Linked DNA regions of Homo sapiens: region 2 is reported to be linked to region 1. The links are microRNA targets in miRTarBase. Many come from high-throughput screens and were not tested one by one. Region 1 holds a microRNA gene; the other region holds the end of a gene's coding sequence.

Region 1 (4,374 bases):
CCTCCCCCGACTCGGAAGGGGGAGGCGCGGGCCACAGTAGGCGACGAGCCGCACTCGGCCACCACCGCGGTGGCCGGCGGAACCCTCGCTTCTCCCCCCCAACCCCGTCGAGGGGGAAGCGGAGGAGGGTCCTCTGCGAGCGGGTCGCTACGGCAGCGCTACCATAACGGAGGCAGAGACAGAGGCGGCGGCCCGGGGGATCCGGTACCCCCAAGGCACGCCTCTCAGATCGCTAGAGAAGGCTTTTCTCACCGAGGGTGGGTCACACTCCCCCCACCCGCCAGCCGCTCCTCCTCGGGCCCGCAGAGGCGCCGAGGGACGCCTGGGGAAGGGAGGGGGCCCTGCGGTACGAGGAAACACCTGCGCGCGGCCACCTCGAGCGTTCGCGTTCAGGGCGGGGGCCCGGCCGGTGCGCGCGTGCGCGCAACCCCACCAGGCCCCCCCGTCCACCCACCTCCTTCCTTCCGAGGCAGAGCGCCTCCGAAGTCAACCCACACACGACCGGTCGGAGGCAGAACGGCAGCCCCTCGGCGGCCGGCCGGCGCACGCGTCACACCGGCCCGAACCCACCGCGATCGCTCACACGGCCCGCGCGCACCCGCCAGAGGGGAGCACGGGACGTGCGCTCACCGAGAGCAGGCGGGCGCCCTTCCCCGCGTGGGAGGGGCGCGTCTCGTCTCGTCTCACTCAAACCGCCCCGAACCCCACACCGACGAGCTCCCTCAGGACCCACGCGCGGACACCGCGGCGGCGACCGGAGGAGGGGGCGCCGGGGGCGGGAACGACACACCACCGTTCGGCCTCGGGCACCTGAGGGACAACCCGGAGCGCTCCAGGAGCACCGCAAGGGCCCAGGCGGAGCCGACGCTCGCGCAAACCCCCCGAGAGGGCAGCACGACGGGCCGGCGGGACGGCACCCCCACCGCCGCGGAGGGGGGCCGCCCGCAAGTCGACAACCACTGGAGGCGACAGCGAGGGCTGTCTGCCGCGTCAGAGGACCCCGCCGGCCCGCACCCGCGACGCAGAAGGCGGCGGGCGGGACGGCGAGGTCGGGCCGGGGTCCGCACCCCACGCCTTCCCACACGCACCGCCGGCGGGCGGGGAGAGGAGAGACGAGGGGACCCCCGCGGGGCGGAGCGAGAAGGACGGTCCCGTTCGCCACGAACGTCCGCCCCTCGCCCGTCGCGGCTCGGACCCGGCCCGGGAGAGCACGACGTCACCACATCGATCACGAAGAGCCCCCCGGGAGCGGAGGCCGGCCGGCCGGCCAGCGAGCCGATCGGCTCCGGCCAACCCCCCACTCCGGGGAAGGGGCGGCGGACAACCCCGCGGAGACGAGAACGCCTGACACGCACGGCACGGAGCCAGCGGGGTGGGGTTGTCGCGGCCGCCCCGGGCGCCCGCAGCGGAGAGCGCACGGGGGCACGGTGGCCCTCGCCGCCTTCCCCGCCGCCCCCGGGTGGGTCAGAGACCCGGACCCGGGCCGGCACCGGGAGTCGGGACGCTCGGACGCGCGAGAGAACAGCAGGCCCGCGGGCCCCGGCAGGCGGCTCAAGCAGGAGCGCGGCCGGCTAGCCGGGTCACCGGTAGGCCAGAGCCCCGCGCGCATCCGGAGGCCCAACCTCTCCAGCGACAGGTCGCCAGAGGACAGCGTGTCAGCAATAACCCGGCGGCCCAAAATGCCGACTCGGAGCGAAAGATATACCTCCCCCGGGGCCGGGAGGTCGCGTCACCGACCACGCCGCCGGCCCAGGCGACGCGCGACACGGACACCTGTCCCCAAAAACGCCACCATCGCAGCCACACACGGAGCGCCCGGGGCCCTCTGGTCAACCCCAGGACACACGCGGGAGCAGCGCCGGGCCGGGGACGCCCTCCCGGCCGCCCGTGCCACACGCAGGGGGCCGGCCCGTGTCTCCAGAGCGGGAGCCGGAAGCATTTTCGGCCGGCCCCTCCTACGACCGGGACACACGAGGGACCGAAGGCCGGCCAGGCGCGACCTCTCGGGCCGCACGCGCGCTCAGGGAGCGCTCTCCGACTCCGCACGGGGACTCGCCAGAAAGGATCGCGGCAGAGGGACCGCGGCCCGGCCCGGGGACCGCTCCCCGGCACCCGGGGGACGGGGGCGGGACGGTCCCCGGCTCCCCACGGGGACTCGGAAACGAATTCGGCCGCCGCCTCAGACGGCCAGGATGAGCGCGGACCCGCGACCGGGCCGGGAAGGGCGTCCCCAGCCTCCCGCGCCACGCGCGGCGGGTCCCCGCGGGTCGCGGCTCGGGCCTCGGGAGCTACGGCGCGCTGGTCGACCGGCCCGGGCAGCCCCACGCCCGCCGCGGGCCCAGAAGCGCAGCGACAGCCTCTCCCCCACATAAACCTGCACGCCAGAGCTGTGACTCACAAGCGACGCGCCACAGCTCTGGCGCCACCGGGCCAGCCGGGCTGACGACCGGGGCTTTCCGGAGCTCTGCCTAGCTCACAGCGGGGACGGTCCCCTCCCTCGGCAGCTGCCACCGCAGCTCCGGAAGCCGAGAGCACGATCTCAAAGCGGCCGCCAGATGGAGCCCGACAACCGCCGCGGACGTCAGCGAGACAGATCCGGCTGGCAGGGCGGCCCGTGGACCGCGAAAGCGAAACCGTGAGTCGAGAAGCTCTTCCCGAGGCCGAAAACGCAGCCCCTCTGCCCCAACCCCACACAAACGGTGCCCAAAACGCGTCTCTGCCTCGACCGCGACAGAGTCAGAAGACAACCCACGGCGCGTGGGTGTTTGGAGATGCCTCTCGGAAGCAGGGAGGGAGGGAGGGAGGGAGGGAGGGAGGGAGAAAGAACACACAAGGACTCGGTCGCGGGTCGCTGCAGACACACGGAGAGGCAGAATGCGTAGGCTCTTCCGGAATCCACGCAGAGACAGACGGGGGGAGGGGAGTGGGGAAAAGAGACAGATGGCGAAAGGGAAGGAGGGAGGGAAGGGAGCAGGGAGGGAGGGAGGGAGGGAGGGAGGAAGACAATGGAGAAAAGAGAGACAATTTAGAAAACGTAGATACACAAAGTAAACTTCTGAAACACTCCATTTTTTAAAAGACAGACGGGAAGGAAAGAAACACGAAAAAGAGAGAAAGAATGAGGAAAGAAACGAAGGAAAGAAGGGAAAAAGAAACAGAGAGGAAAGAAAAAAGAAGGAAACACAGGGAACGAAAGAGAAATAAAGCACGAAGGAAAAAAGGACAGAAAGAGAGAAAGAAGGAAAGGAAGAGAGGAAGAAAAACCTAAAGAAGGAGAGAAAGGAAGAAAGGAAGGAAGAAAAACACGAAGGAGAGGAAGAAAGAAAACAGAGATAACTACGTACGCTCGTTCATTTACACACATAAATACGACGCTTTTCATACGTAAAATAAACGTCTTTATCGACGATCCCTTCTTTATAGAGCGATGTGTATTTATTTGTATAACACAGACACCTACATCTATCATACAGAAGTCTATTTCCATACAACCGATACGTATTTACCATACGCAAGAGTATTCAATGCAGAGATACACGTTGTCGTTGTTTGCATATAAGCGTACAGAAACGTTTACATTAATACATATAAGTAAACGCGTGGAAACGAAAGAAATAAAAAAGCGAAATGAGTCAACAGGCCGGGCACGGTGGCTCACGCCCGTCATCCCAGCACTTCGAGAGGCCGAGGTGGGCGCATCACAGGAGGTCGGGAGTTGGAGACCAGCCTGAGCAACATGGAGAGACACGGCGTGCCTACTAAAAACACAAACATCAGCCAAGCCAGGCGTGGGGGTGCCTCCCTGTAATCCCCGCTAATCGGGAGGCTGAGGCAGGAGAAGCGCTCGAACCCGGGAGGCGGAAGGTGCGGTGAGCCAAGATCGCGCCATTGCACTCTAGCCGTGGAAACAAGAGTGAAACTCTGTCTCAAAAGGACGAAACAGAAAGAAAGAAAGAAAGAAAGATAGAAAGAAAGAAAGAAAGAAAGGAAAGAAAGAAAGAATGAATGAATGAAAGAAAAGAAAGCAAGAAAGAAAGAAAAAGAAAAGAAAGAAAGAAAAGAAAGCAAGAAAGAAAGCACGAAAGCAAGCAAGCAAGAAAGCAAGAAAACAAGGAAGCAAGAAAGCAAGCAAGAAAGAAACAAAAGAAAGAAAGCAAGAAAACAAGAAAGCACGAAAGCAAGCAAGCAAGAAAGCAAGAAAACAAGGAAGCAAGAAAGAAAGAAACAAAAGAAAGAAAGAAAACAAGAAAGCAAGAAAGCACGAAAGCAATCAAGCAAGAAAGCAAGCAGGAAAGAAACAAAAGAAAGAAAGAAATCGAGAAAACAAGAAAGCACGAAAGCAAGCAAGCAAGAAAGCAAGCAAGAAAGAAACAA
Region 2 (4,374 bases), not on the chromosome of region 1:
TGACTCACTCCTGGAATCCCAGCACTTTGGGAGGCCAAGGAAGGAGGATGGCTTGAGGCCAGGCATTCAAGACCAGCCTGGACAACATGGTGAGACCCCATAGCTATAAAAAGTAAACAATTAGCCGGGCGCGGTGGCTCACGCCTGTAATTCCAGCACTTTGGGAGGCCGAGGCGGGTGGATCACGAGGTCAATAGATCGAGACCATCCTGGCCAACATGGTGAAACCCCATCTCTACTAAAAATACAAAAGTTAGCTGGGCGTGGTGGTGGCACACGCCTGTAATCCCAGCTACTCGGGAGGCCGAGGCAGGAGAATCGCTTGAACCCAGGAGGCGGAGGTTGCAGTGAGCCGAGATCGCGTCATTGCACTACAGCCTGGCAACAGAGCGAGACTCCATCTCAAAAAAAAATAATAATAATAATAGTAATAATAAATTGGCCAGGCGTGGTGATGGCAGTGTTGTCATTGCTTTAAGAGGCAGGAACAGGGGGAAAAGACCCAGCAGTCTAACCACACAGACAAGTCCCAAGTTAAGCACTTCTGTGTGACTTGGGGGCTGTTGATAAAGATCAGAAATAACCTATGTGGATCACCCAGCAAAATGACCAGTATGAAAAGATGTTCAGTGGTAGAAAATGAAATAAGCATTGTGACTACAACTCACTCAATAAGCATTCATTGAACACTGGTCACTGGTAAACTGCTATGAAGAAATCTCAGCTGGGTGCAGTGGCTCACGCTTGTAATCCCAGCACTTTAAAGGGAGACCAAGGTGGGCAGATGGATCACTTTAGGTCAAGCGTTCGAGAACAGCCTGGCCAACATGGTGAAACCCCATCTCTACTAAAAACACAAAATTAGCCGGGCATGGTGGCAGGTGCCTGTAATCCCAGCTACTTGGGAGGCTGAGGCAGGAGAATCGTTTGAACCCGGGAGGTGGAGATTGTAGTGAGCTGAGATCACAACACTGCACTCCAACCTGGGAAACAGAGCAAGACTCCATCTCAAAAAGAAAAAAAATCTCAAGCTTATTGGATAGATAAATGCACAGGTAGATAGATGGATATTGAATGAATAAATAGTTCAGTGGATTAAAAACTGGTTAATGAAGAAATGGATGGGTAAATGGATGGAAATATGAATGAATGCATGATGGATAAGGACAAATGAAATAGACAAATGTACAAATGAAAGCAAAGGAAAAAGAGATGCTCAATAGAAATGAATAAGGATGAGAATCAATGCTAGACATGAATGAGTGAATGGTGAATGAAGGAGTGATTGAATGGATGAATACATGGAGTTAAGTTGAAGTACAAACTCGGCCAAGACTTCTTTTTCTCTGCTTTGGGTGGAAATACATTTTAAAAAAAAGAGGGCCGGGCACGGTGGCTCATGCCTGTAATCCCAGCACTTTGGGAGGCTGAGGCGGGCGGATCACCTGAGTTTGGGAGTTCGAGGCCAGCCTGACCTACACAGAGAAACCCTGTTTCTACTCAAAATACAAAATTAGCCAGGTGTGGTGGCTCACACCTGTAATCCCAGCTACTCGGGAGGCTGAGGCAGGAGAATCACTTGAACCTGGGAGGCGGAGGTTGTGGTGAGCCGAGATGGCGCCATTGCACTCCAGCCTGGGCAACAAGAGCGAAAGTCCACCTCAAAAAAAATAAAATAAAATAAAATAAAATAAAAAAAGAGGGAAAAAGGAAAAAAAAAGACTCCCTGATGTGCCACTGACTTCCTGTACATGTTTAGGTAAACTTAATATCACCTCTCTTTCCACCATTTTCCCATTTATAAAGTGGGAAGACTGGATTTGATGACATCACAGCCTCATCCAGGTCTGGTGCCTTCCTTATAACCTGCGTCTCTTCTTTATTCTTTTTTTTTTTTTTTTTTTTTTGAGACGGAGTTTTGCTCTGTCACCCAGGCTGGAGTGTGCAGTGATGCAATCTCGGCTCACTACAACCTCCGCCTCCTGGGTTCAAGCAATTCTCCTGCCTCAGCCTCCCGAGTAGCTGGGATTACAGGCGCCCGCCACCATGCCCGGCTAATTTTTGTATTTTTAGTAGAGACGGGGTTTTACCATGTTGTCCAGGCTGGTCTCGAACTTCTGACTTCGTGATCCACCTGCCTCAGCCTCCCAAAGTGCTAGGATCACAGGTGTGAGCCAGCACCCCCGGCTTATTCCTTTTTTAAAATTGTTATTATTTCCCACAGCCACATATGCCGGGGAGGTTGTCCCACATATGTTCTACCAAGGCCCCTCTGGCACTGAGATCAAACCCCGGAAGACCCGCTCAGTCTCTCCTCCCGTCTTTTCAACACGTTAGCGCCCCCAGGTGGCTAATTAGACTTCAAAATTCAGTTCTTGAGGCGGGCGGATCACTTGAGGTCAGGAGTTCAAGACCAGTCTGGTCAACATGGTGAAACCCCGTCTCTACTAAAAATACAAACATTAGCCGGACATGGTGGTACGCACCTGTAATCCCAGCTATTCGGGAGGCCGAGGCAGGTGGATCACTTGAGGTCAGGAGTTCGAGACCACCCTGGCCAATTTGGCAAAACTCCATCTCTACTAAAAATACAAAAATTAGCTGGGCGTGATGGCGCACACCTGTAATCCCAGCTACTCAGGAGACTGAGGCACGAGAATCACTTGAACCCGGGAGGCGGATGTTGCAGTGAACCGAGATCACGCCACTGCACTCCAGCCTGGGTGGAGTGAGATCTTCTCTCAAAAAAAAGAAAGAAAGAAAGAAAGAAAAAGTCGTGCTTGATTATGCTTGATGGCAAAAAGGTGAGACCTTCCTTTCGGCACTGAGTCTGGTAGAAATCGGTGTTACAGGGTAGCTAACATTTATTGAACACTTACTACGGGCCAGTTACTGCTTTAAATGTTTTATGTGTATTACCCACTGACTCCTACAACAATCCTATGAAGTGGGTTTTATCAGTGCATCCATTTTACCGTCAAGGCAAGAGAGAGTTGGGGAAGGGCGCTTTCTGAATGCTGCTACCGTGTCCAGAGTTGGTTCCTTCCTGTGGGTTTGTGGTCTCGCTGACTTTAAGAATGGAGCCAGGGACCTTCGTGGTGAGTGTTACAGCGCTTAAAGATGGCACGGACCTAAAGAGTTAGCAGCAGCAAGATTTATTGTGTAGAGCAAGAGAACAAAGCTCCCACAACGTGGAAGCAGACTCTGGTGGGGTGCCGCGCTCGCCAGCTTTTATTCCCTTATTGTCCCCGCCCGTGTCCTGCTGATTGGTCCATTTTACAGAGCGCTGATTGGTCCATCTTACAGAGTGCTGATTGGTCCATTTTACAATCCTCTTGTAAGACAGAAAAGTTCTCCAGGTCCCCATTCAACCCAGGAAGTCCAGCTGGCTTCACGTCTCACTACTACCTTTCTGTAGCTGCTACTACTACAGTGAGTAGACGGCAGTGCTGGGATTCGAACCCTCTGTCTTCTGGCTTGGAAGTCTTAACCACTAATCGCGTCTTCCTTTCAGCTACTCCTTGGGAAAGGCCTGGAAAGAAGCTACAGCACAGGGCACAGCGGGGTCTAAGGACCGTTCCGCGGAGCTCAGCCAGCAGGACTGTGGGGCTGCAGGAAAGGACAGTCCAGCCCAGGGTCCCAGCTTCTCCGCCACTCAGGTTGGAAGTCTCGGGCTGCAGTGCTCCTGGGGCTCAGGGGCGGATACCAGCAGGAGCGCGGTTCTGACTGCGCCAGTCAAAAGTGACCAGCGCGCCCAGGGAGATGAGGACCAGCCCGGCCAGCCCCAGGCGGACTAGGTTCCCCCGGGTGTAGTCGGAGGAGCCAGAGTCTGCGGGCGGAGCCGGGAGAGAGGGGCCATCAGCTCCCGGACCCCAAAGTCTGGGCCCTGAACTCCAGGTTTCCAGCCCCTGGGGTGGACTTAGGGACCTGACTCTACAGTCTCAAAGTTGAGGGGGAGTCGATGGAGGCTTCAACTCCTGGGTCCAGGAAGAAGGGGCTGGGGCCTGGACTGCTGGATCAGGAAGGAGGGGCTGGGGGCCTGGAGTCCTGGGTCCAGGAAGGAGGGGCTGGGGGCCTGGAGTCCTGGGTCTGAGGGAGGAGGTACTGGGGCCCGGGAATCCTGGGTCTGAGGGAGGAGGAGCTGGAGGACTAGACTCCTGGATCTGAGGGAGGAGGGGCTGGGTCCCAGGAATCCTGGGTCTGAGGGAGGAGGGGCTGCAGGACTAGACCCCTGGGTCTGAAGGAGGAGAGGCTGGGGGCCTGGGCTCCTGGGTCTGAGGGCGGAGGTCCTGGGGCCTGCATTCCTGGGGCGGAGGAGGCGGGCCGGGCCTCAGGGCCCTCACCTTCCCAGCTGATGACCAGCACCTCGCTGCG

The links. Region 1 holds the annotated microRNA hsa-miR-6724-5p (CUGGGCCCGCGGCGGGCGUGGGG, at 2,320-2,342, opposite strand). A microRNA usually pairs through its seed, bases 2 to 8, with sites in the 3' UTR of a target mRNA and lowers its output. Matches are read on the target gene's strand: a 7mer-m8 pairs with bases 2 to 8, a 7mer-A1 pairs with bases 2 to 7 and ends in A, and an 8mer does both.
Region 2: miRTarBase lists OSCAR as a target of hsa-miR-6724-5p. The part of its 3' UTR that is shown has no 7-base or 8-base seed match.

What each region holds. Positions count from the first base shown.
Region 1 is chr21:8,247,483-8,251,856 of GRCh38, reverse strand. It overlaps MIR6724-2 (microRNA 6724-2), which reads right to left and starts at 2,352; the gene lies at 2,261-2,352.
Region 2 is chr19:54,091,529-54,095,902 of GRCh38, forward strand. It overlaps OSCAR (osteoclast associated Ig-like receptor), which reads right to left. Exons shown (of 5, transcript NM_133169.6): 4 at 4,344-4,374; 5 at 3,140-3,829. The coding sequence ends at 3,693. Among named protein-coding and RNA genes, the nearest start is that of OSCAR, 7.1 kb to the right of the region's middle.